2 separate regions of the Homo sapiens genome follow, and region 1 is linked to region 2. The links come from fine-mapping of genetic effects on gene expression. A gene starts in region 2. The other region holds a variant in brackets. All regions are shown on one strand. Distances are from middle to middle.

Region 1 (5,384 bases), 300 kb after region 2:
GTTTTCGGTGCAGGCAGGGTACAGCCCATGTGTGAGATTAATTTGCCTGGTGTGTGTGTGTGTGTGTGTGTGTGTGTGTGTGTGTGTTTACTCACATGAATACTTACGTTCAAGTCAATATGGCTGTTCTTGTTTGTGGAAAGAATAATGACAAATGCTTCTGGGGAAGATTCCAACACAAATGATTTTGAAGAGACAAAGTACAAAATATCTAGGGCCATTGAGGATTTTTATTTTAAGAACAGTTCCTATAAATACATTTCTTTTTGCAAATAACTTTGGAAGTCATTTTCTTGAGATTATGATTTGCTCTCTGCTGCACATGAATTTTAGAATTTTGAAGTAAATATGCCACTTTTTATATTTTCTTACATGAAAAAAGAAATGATTTAGGCAGACAATATATTCTTGACAGCTAAATGGGAGAAAAATAGCTACAAACAAAATTAATAATTGCTGACATTTAAAGAACACTCATTTTGTGCTAGGTACTGTTTTATGAGGTTTATATGAATTAACAATTTAATACTCACACCAACTCAGTATCGTTATTAATCTCATTTTACAGGTGAGAAAACGGAGGCATTGGAAGTCTGTGTATATTTCCTGAGGGCGCTCAGCTAGTAAATGGTGTAACTAAATTTTAAGCTCAGGCAGTCTGGCTCCAGACCCTGTGTCTTTAACCTGTGCTGCAGAGATGCTGCACATGTTTATGTGAAAGTGTTAGGTTAGCTGTAAGACATATTACAAATGTCTATTAAAAATTCAGTCCACAAGTGATAAGCCCCTACTATGCATTGGGCTCTGTGCTAGGCACTGGGAATACGTGGAGAACATGAGATACAGACCCTGACCTCATGAAGTTAGCAGTCTGAGTCCAGTGGAGGAGGGGGATGGATAAGGCATCATTTGCTTAAGGAGCAGGGATGACCTAGAGCTGTAGTGTTAAAGAGGTGCTTATTATAACCCTAGATTATAATGTGGCAGTGTGTACCCTGATATAAACATTTTATGTTCAGAAGATTTTATATGGGCTTGTTAATGTGCCTGTCACAGAAAGGTGCTAGGGATACAAATATCAGGAGGATTACCTGGGTCTCCAAGACTAGTCTATAAGGAGAGACAGACATGTAACTAATAATGGCCATCAATTGTTCAGCACTTATTTTGTGATCAGCACTCAAGGCTAGGTACTTTATGTACATTTCCCCTTTCTTCCTTGCCACAACAGTGCAATCTTGCAACATGACATGCTGACTCTGATAGGACTCTCTCCATCTCACAAATGAGGAAATTGAGGCTTGTGGGGGTTGAAATTTCTTGCCTGGAGTCACACAGCTAGTAAACAGCCAGCCTGCAATTTTTAACTCACGCCCATGGTTCTATCCACTACACTGTTCTGCCTCCTCTAAAACTCCATCCATGTGGCTGAGTCCCTGTATTAGTCTTTTCTCACGCTGCTAATAAAGACGTACCCGAGAGTGGGTAATTAATTTATAAGAGAAAGAGGTTTAATTGTCTCACAATTCAGCATGGCTGGGAGGGCCACAGGAAACTTACAGTCATGGTGCAAGAGGAAGCAAACATGTCCTTTTTCATATGGCAGCAGCAAGGAGAAGTGCTGAGCAAAAGGTGGAAAAGCCCTTTATAAAACCATCAGATCTTGTGAGAACTCACTCACTATTATGAAAACAGCATGAGGATAACCTCCCTTATGATTTGATTACCTCCCACCAGGTCCCTCCTACAACACGTGGGGATTGTGGGAACAACAATTCAAGATGACATTTGGGTCCAAACCATATCAGTCCCATTGGGTCCAGGCAGCCTAGTGCAGGAATAAGAATGCAGGCCCTGTGTGATTACCTGATAGTGGTGAGACTAGCCAAGTTATATAATCTCCCTCAGGGTAGTAATAATACCTACATCTCAGATTTTGTGAGAATTAAATGAGATAATACATACAAAAGATGTAAGTCACAGTGCACAAAACTAGACAGCATATATGTTAGCTGTTATTTGTTTGTTTGCCAGGTGAGGATAAACATGGAGAAATGAGGTTTTTGTTATTTTTATTTCTTTGTTAACTTCTGACTTAAGCCCACTTAGTGTTGTCAGAGATTTCTTAATGTTTTTGTTTGGTTTAGTAACAGAAGCTGATTGTTAGATGTGATTGAGCAAATGCTGTTCAAATTATTCCAAGAGAGAGCTTTTCAGACAGAATTGATTTTCTATTATTATAACTCACATACTAGCTGCTGGTATTTCAGCTTGAGCACTAGAGTAGTGGACTACTACTAAACAAGAGTAGAGAACATTTCCACACTTCCAATAGCTCCTTTTTCTCCTCCATTGAGTTTGGGGCCTGTTAATCTGGTGTCCTTTCCCCAAGAGCTGGACAAATGACCTCCTTTGAATTTGAATTATTAGCTGAGAGAAAAAGAGCCTGGGCTCTGTTGGAGACTTTTTATTCCAGTGGTGCTGCTCTAAGAAGATATCTTTTTCT[A/G]TACGATTCTTCCTTTAGTTCTTATGCATTAGATCTGAAACACTTGATTCCCAATTAATTCTCCAGACTTGCTATTGATTTTCAGAGCTCCTCTAAGTATTTTAATAAATGCTCTTTGTTTATAAGTTTAGTAGATTCAATTTACCTTGCTTCCAGTTGGTTGAATGATTAATAACCATCCTGGAAAGACATAATCACTGAATTAGGAGGCTGTGGTACAATTCTGCGTTGCCTACTGAAAAAGTTTCCTTATACATGATTTAGACTAGTATTCCCTACTATCTAGAGAGAGGGAGTGGGAATTAACCAATTCTGGTTAAATGTGTTGGTTTGTATTTCTAAAAATATTTAATTCCAGTGTAATTTCCAATAAGTAAGGAAGGAGCTGGAAAAAAATGAGAAATGTGCCCTCAGCAAGTTGGGGGATTGACAGCATGGAGTGGTGCAAAGGGGCATTGGCTTTAGAGTAAATTGAGCTGAGACTGAAAAATAAATTGTTTAGTGTTTTCTGCAGTTCAATATTACATTTATCTGATATTAAAAGCTGGAGAAAAAAATTGCAGAAAGAAAAATGACTAACGACAATATAATGAATAAGAATTATAATTACAGTGTCCAAATTGTTGCAGAGACCAGGACTTAGTATTTAGCAAGGAAACTGAAATCAAGGTGCTTCTGGAAGATCCCACACTTGTGTTTTTCTTTAATTCATATTCTAGCACCTACGTGGGTCCAGTATAGGGACTTGTTTAGCGTATCTTTTGCATTTTTCCATACTTTTGCCATATGTCTATATCCAACTGTAGCAGTCAATTTGCTCTTCCTTTCTTTCTTTTTCACTATTGTACATGAAATTGGTCTCCTTACATAGCCATTGTGTTTATTTAGGATGATAGGATGATTCAGTCCTCACTACCTTTTCAAGACAATCACTGGATCAAAATAACTCCATTCCATTCCACCCTCACATGTTAAAAGACCTTTCCCTCTGTTTCTTCTCCATGATGTCCTTCTTGTGCTGATATAATAAAATACCTGAGACTGGGTAATTTATAAACAACAGAAATTTATTTCTCACAGTTCTTGGGGCTGAGAAATCCAAGATCAAGGCAGGAGTGGATTTAGTGTCTGGTGAGAGCACAGTCTCTTCTTCCAAGATGGTGACTTCTTGCTTCGTCTTTCAGAGGGGAGGAACGGTGTCTCCTCAAATGGCTGAAGGGAAAGAAAGGCAAAAGAAGGTAAAAGGGCCTAGCTAGTTCCCTCCAGCCCTTTTACAGGGCACTAATCACCTCCTAAAGGCCTTACCTCTTGATATTATTGCATTGGGGATTAAGTTCCAACATGAATTTTGGAAGGGACACAAACATTCAAACTATAGACATTTGGTTGTTAACATAATATTAAAATCTCAAAATGGAAATTTTTCCTGTTTTTTAAGGCTTTCAGAAAGGGATACTACAACTTCACTTACGTAGCCAACATATTCTAGTACATTGTTAGTAATTTTGGAAGTGTTTCACTCATGAGAGTTCTGAAGATCTCTTGGGAGCAAGATGTGGAATTACACTATATCACTGATAAAATGCTATTTGCAATGAAGTGGAATTCATCTAAAGTCTTGAACTCTATCCAGAGTGATTTGACTTTTTAAGTACAAAAAGAACTGCATTGTAAAGGTGATCACATCTATAAAACTGAAATTAGAAAGAACCCAAGGGGAGCATTTTAGTGAGCTTTCCCAATATATATTTTTCTAACTTGTCCTGTTGGCTATTTTAAGAAACTAAATTTTATTACTTTGTGTTTTTAAAAGTTTTATGTAAAAATCAATTTTAGCAGGCTGGAGAAGTATCAAGTAGAGATATATAAAAATAATATTAAAGAAATATAATTAATAAATATTTTATTACAAAGGAAAAACTATGAAGTAGGTAATCACTAGAGCTTAAAGAGAAATAAAAGGGTTAAGAAGTAGCTGCCCTTCTTATTTATTCATGACTTTCATTGATTACTTGTTGAATAACAGGCAATAAATAAAAAATGAATATAACTATTACCTCTTCAATGGTCATTCCTATTAAATATGTATTTACACTTTTCCTGGATAGATTTCCAACTTATAATTTAATGCATTCCAATGTGTGCCATGATTCTGGGCTGCTTTTATAAATTTATGTTTAGTATATGTGACTATTACTTTTCCCCATAACGCTTTTGCTTTTTATCACTACTTAAGCCTTTGCTCCTTCTGCTTTTATCTAAAACATTTTCAATTTCCGTGGGAAGAGCAGAGATTGAAGCTTCTCACTTCTCCGTGTGTAGTTATGTTTCTAACCCAGGCAGATTCCCTCACTGAATTCCCGAATTTCAGGACCTTACAGTTCTGGGGAATCTTGCTACAACAGAGGAAATTACATGGATGTCAGTGTAGAAATACGCTTTCAATTAGAGCCTGAAAACACATTTGAAGTCTCTGTTCATTGTTGAGAGACAAAAGAAAGGAAACAGATGATGGGCTAATGGGAAAAGAAGTATGAGGAGAGGCATCCATCTCTGAAAGCTGAGTGAGAGTGAGAAGTGGGCTACCCTTCACTTACTGGCCATAGATATTTAAAATCATTCTATGAGATACTGTGGAGAGGGGGCTGTTAGTGTGAATGTTCAAACCAGGCTCTTCCAACAGACATAGTGACCATGCCTTTGGGGGCTGCCTGAGGGTATATAAAGAAGGAACATGCCCAGTATCATCCACATTGTCTATTGAGAACTTTTCCAGTGGTGTCTCTGGCATCTGCCAGCTGTTGTTGCTGTAGAATCTAGAGAAAGGCTAGGATTCCTTTTGAGTATTCAGAAAAAAAAGTATATTTACAAAGTGTAG
Region 2 (5,384 bases):
CAGGGTTCTGGACTTCCCTGGCTGGAAGGACTATATTGACATATCTAGTCTTTTAGTCTGGTCTAGGTATTTTCAGGACTGCTAGAACTTGCTTAGTTCTTATTGGTTGTATTTCAGTCTAATTCTAGATTTCAAGTCATTCCAATTAATAAGTGCCCTTCTTCTGAGATTTGTAGCTGCTTGGTGTGGATCTGTTCTGATTTCTGCTCTAAAATGGAATTCTAGGATCCTTGAGGATGAGAAGTTCTACCATGCAGACAGTGACAGAACCATTTTTCTTTATCAGATTGATTATTTTATTTAGTCACAGGACTGCAAAAGTCCTCTGTCCATAAATATTTATTGAGCACTTACTCTGTTCCAGACATAGTTCTGGGAGCTGGAGATACAGCAATGAATAAAATCGCAAGGTCTTTAGGCACATGGAGATGGCATTCTACATTTCAGTGAAGCAGAGATAGGGGGAAAGTAAAACAGAATATGTAAGTAAACAATTCCACGGAAAAGACAGTTTGTTCACAGTGATAAAATCCTGTGAGAAGACAAAACACAATATGACTGACATGTACTGAGGCTTGTAGGGGCAACTTGAGATTTGTAGTTAGAGAGTCCTTTCTGACGTAGTAACATTTGAATTTCCTGCTCGTTACTATTATTCATATCTTACCTTCCTACCCCTGCTCACCCCCAAATTCCAATCTGCCAATCTAGCAATTGTCACCATGACTTGGTAAAAGGTTGGGAGGCAAGAATTGTAGGTGACAGCTATTTGGAAAGAGGGACTGTTAATGCAGGGGTAGGAATGTGCCCATGGCTGCTGACTTAACTGAAACTAGCTAGTCTCTTTCAGTTTTTGAAGTGGGTCCACAAAGCAGAATCTGCTCCTGGCTAGGAGCAAGTACATAGGAGGGGTTTTTTTTTTTTCAATTGCAAACATGAGTATCAGGAAAAGCCTTCTGAGCTTATGCTGGAACACAACAATATAAACGACTTGCTAGATTAGGGTCCAACTAGTTTATCAAAGCAGAGTAATTTAGACAACAATCTTTACGGATAGAGGCTCAGAGCAAAGGAATCAGAGGGGTGTGTGTGTGTGTGTGTGTGCACTTTCACATGAGGGTGAGAGGGAAGGATGCCAAGGAAGAGAAAAGAGTCCAACTAGACATTGTCTAGTTGAAAGATACAACATTTTGCAAGTTATATGCTGTACTTTCTGGCCTCTGTTTTTTTTTAAATCACTGACCTTGAATGTTTGTTAATAAAGTGATGCTAATTTTAAAATTTGTAAAAATAAATTATTATCATAATGGTACACAAATCTGTAGGATGAGGAACTTATAAATGACATTAATATCCTATAACAAGATAATGAGTGAGATAAAGGCAGTTTTACATTTTTCAGAGGACAACCGAAGAATGGGACTTTTATTAGAGTAACAAAGAAAAATGAAGCACTGACAACTGTAAATGACAGAAGTCAAATGTAATAATAGTTGAATATCAAAGAAAAAAATGATAGCCTAAAATAAGATATATTTCTGAGGATAGCAATTAAAAATATTTCCTATATAGCATAGACAGGAATTCCCTGAACTAAAGGAGATGGAAGACATGTATGGTTGTTTTAAGTCTGGGTACACTTTATTTTCTTCCTCTAGTCTGTGCGTTGTAAAGGCATACCTGTTGAAAAGGAAACTTTTGTTGGGTTACCCCTCCTGTCTTTTAAAGATGAGGGGGAAAAAGAAGCCTTTGCTGTTATGGATGCAGTTCTCAGAATCTCACTAGAGGGTGGTGTTGGTTCTAAAACCAGAGGTCACTGCTACTCTCTACAGTACATTCATTACTAGGCTGCATTTATGTTTAAAGAAAAGGCAAAGTCAAGCCTTCTCAGTATTCCCTAGTAGTTGATAAATGTCAAATCTGAAACCTCCCAAGTGCCCCTGCCAGTTCTGGCTGGTTGTAGCCCAGAGGAGACAGATAAAGTAGTGAAGAGATTATCGGAGGAGTTGGGTGGCTGATTCTAATTTTGGCTCCTGCACTAACTAGTAGACAAGACTCCCTGGGCCTTTGTCTCAACCGTAAAACAAAAATGATGTCCTAGTTGATCCCTAAATCCCCATATATCTCTAAAATTATGAGATTCAAACCAAATTGTTGGTCTAAAATGCTGAATAATTTCTCATGCTGTTAGCCAGACTAAGGAACAAGTAAAATCTCAAATTATTAAATTATTAATAAGATAAAATGTAATGTTATAAGTGAGGTTTAATATAGATTCTAATATCAAAGGAGTTTAAAATTAAAATGCCAAGTCTTTTGTCTTACCAGGGAGCCTTAGGACCATGGTTTGCATCTGAGCATTCTGTGGATAATTTCAGTGACTTAACTCATCATCCAAAGATCTCTCCCTTCTTGGTTGCTAGCTTACTGGAAATGAGCAAAATATGTTTTTATATAGGATTATATAGAGAAAGGAGGCTGAACCATTGTCAAATAGGAATGTTTTAGGATAGAGACTAAACTCCCCACCTGCATTTATCTGACTTGGATTATATCTGTGCTTTTTAAGAGTCAGTCTTCGGAGGGATTTAGTTGGTTCAGTTTCCTTTCACCCTCATCTCTTTCACTGACTCCCTTTCCTTGTTATATTTACTCACACTGCAGAATGACCTTAGAATCCTTTCCTGGAACCTGAAGCAAATTATGGAACCCCAAGATCCCAGTAAACCCTAGTTTATCTCTGCATGGACTTGACTTCTAAGAATTGGCCTGAGAGCCTGCAATTAACCTGTGACCACGCAAAGCTTCACCCCGTCACCCCAAACGCTTAGACATTCATACTCAATACCCACTTTCCTCCAAATTGCTTTGTTTGGCAGAAGAAGGTTTCTTTCTCCCCTCTCCTTCACCCAACCTGGATTTTTGTTGCATCTCAGGCTCATTTCGCAAATCTAAACTTCCTAAAATATACACGGAGCGCCTCCGGGTTTGCACACGCGCGCGCGCGGGTACACCCTGGCTCGAGTACATTAGCCCCGCTGGGCCGGCTCCCAGTTGCAGAACACATTCCATTCTTCGCGCTCGGGCACACCCCTCCGCAGTGAGGATTGGTCGGGCCGAGCCCCCTCGGCGAGGCGAGGCTCCTAAGAGGCCCAGACGCCTGCCAATCCCCAAGGGCTGTCAAAACAAGTCTCCCTCCCTGTCACAACAGAGCTGAGTGGAGGCCGCCGCCGCCGCCGCACTTCCTGGGACCGCTGCGCCGCAGTCCGCGGGCAGGTGGCGGGTGCGCCCGGCCGCAGTCGCCCGGCTCTGGCCCCTATCGGGCCGCCGGCGTCCGGGCTCCAGAGGCCGCCTGGCTGGGCGCCCGGTGCCTTTTGTCTGGCGCAGGGCCGGCGTTTGCATCACATTTCGGATACCTCCCTCTCTTTTTCGCCTCTCCTTCTGCCTCCCGCTCACATCGCCTCCCCACTCCCGCCACCGTCCCCCGCCGGACTGCTAGCCTCCTAGACCGAAGCCCGAGGACGTCTCTGCCCGAGCGATGTCCCCTCTCCAGAAAGTTGCCGCCGCCGCCGCCGCCGCCGCCACTGCCGCCGCTGGGCGGTGAAACAAAGTCTGGCGGGGCCGCCTCCCGGTGCAGGAGCGCACCGGTGCCTAGCGGCTGGACTCCGCTGCCGGGCGTCCCGCTTTCCCCCGGGGAGCCCTAAACGCTCCAGGCCATGGCCGAGGGCGCGGCCGGCAGGGAGGATCCGGCGCCGCCCGACGCGGCGGGGGGCGAAGACGACCCCCGAGTGGGCCCGGATGCCGCCGGGGACTGCGTGACGGCGGCCTCTGGGGGCCGGATGAGGGACCGTCGCAGCGGGGTCGCACTGCCAGGCGCCGCGGGGACCCCAGCGGACAGCGAGGCGGGCCTCCTGGAGGCAGCACGGGCGACCCCCCGGCGCAGCAGCATCATCAAGGTAAGCAAAGCCGCGCCGCACCGGGAGCGTGGCTGTGGGTGATGGGTGGGTCAGGGACCCGGGCAGGATGTGCGGTGTCCGGAGGCATCCGGGCTCAGCATTGTTTTCTCCCACCTCCTTCAACGCCAAACCTTCCTTCCTTATCCGGAGGTTCCCAGACTCAGCTGTCAGCCACGAGACGCACAAGTGACTTTTTCTCCCCACTGACGGCAGAGGAAAAGTTCCGCTCTGCGTCTTTGCGTTCTGATGGATGCTTTCCCTCATTTTCTCTGCAAGCTTCACTAAACCGTTGATGGAGGGAGGAAGGGAGAACTCTGGATAAATGCAGACCCACCGGATGGTTGTGCATTGCTTTCCAATGAAGGGTTAGCTTTTCCCATACAATGAAGAAAATGCACAGCTTACTCTCAAGTGTAAAAAAAGAATCCCTCTAGACTTAAATGATCCCGAAATCCCAAGATGTGTGAACTTTCCCGGTAGGGAGGCAGAGTTTTAAGTGGACCCTGCATCACAGTAAAGAGCAATGCAAGAGCCCAGAGTTTTTGCGCTGCAGAAAGCACAACCGGAAAGCAATCAATCCCCCAAGCATTATCACTGGTCCTTGTGGTTACCACCACATCCAGGGAAAACGCTTCCTGACCCGCTAATCACCTCACAGAATTTCTCTCCATCCATTTGGCAAGGAATTTGTAAACCTCTTTCCTCCCCTTTCTCTTTCCATCTTCCTTCCACTTGGGGCTTGTTTCTTCTGTTCGAGATTTCCTCTTTTGGGAGCATGACTTTGGGGTAAGGTTATTTAGGAAAGAACCCTCGCACAGGCTCTGGAAAAGGGCCTCAGTGTAAATGCATGTGAGTAATCAATCAAATGTATGTCAGATTAAAATTGATTTTGGTGGAGCAGTCAGTATAAAACGATATGTATGTATGTATATATGTAAGTATATATGTGTGTGTGTACATACACACACACACATCCCTCAATGACAATGAAAGATGGACTTTTACTTACTATTGAATTTATTGGGTTCACTAATATATTCAAAAGCTCTGTTCAGGGTTAAGCTGCGTAACCAGTGCATCACGCATGTTGCAAGCTCCCAGCACCAGCTTAGGTAGACTAACCACAGAATGTGGCTCCAGTAAAGTCTTTTTCCCAACACTGACACATGGAAGTTTAAAATCAGTGGAGAGGTTTCTATAATATATAAAGAAGAGTGGGTGGTAATTACAAATGGCTTGTAGTAGTTTCTGTTATTTTGTGGCTTTTTGATTATGTAACAGGAGTGTTCTATTCTGGGTGTGAATTTGGACAAAGGGAAATTACTATTTTGTTTTTAACCCACAGGTCAGAAAGCACACTGTTTTCAAACTTAAAAAACATCACAATTAGGAAACACATACATTTTGGATTCTACTGTATTGATACTA

The links. PIP is the estimated chance that this variant, and not a neighbour inherited with it, causes the effect.
Region 1: its variant is the best candidate, but not a certain one, in a credible set for the expression of PLCL1 in monocytes after Pam3CSK4 (Quach 2016, PIP 0.53).

Annotation. Positions count from the first base shown.
Region 1 is chr2:198,105,553-198,110,936 of GRCh38, forward strand. The region is part of intron 5 of PLCL1 (phospholipase C like 1 (inactive)); the gene reads left to right. Among named protein-coding and RNA genes, the nearest start is that of LINC01923, 270 kb to the right of the region's middle. The variant A/G (reference allele first, on the strand shown) is at 2,507.
Region 2 is chr2:197,801,384-197,806,767 of GRCh38, forward strand. It overlaps PLCL1 (phospholipase C like 1 (inactive)), which reads left to right and starts at 3,210. Exons shown (of 6, transcript NM_006226.4): 1 at 3,210-3,956. The coding sequence starts at 3,717. It overlaps LOC105373828 (a long non-coding RNA gene), which reads right to left and starts at 3,163. Exons shown (of 4, transcript XR_001739850.3): 1 at 2,326-3,163; 2 at 355-436. RefSeq lists a silencer at 3,257-3,386.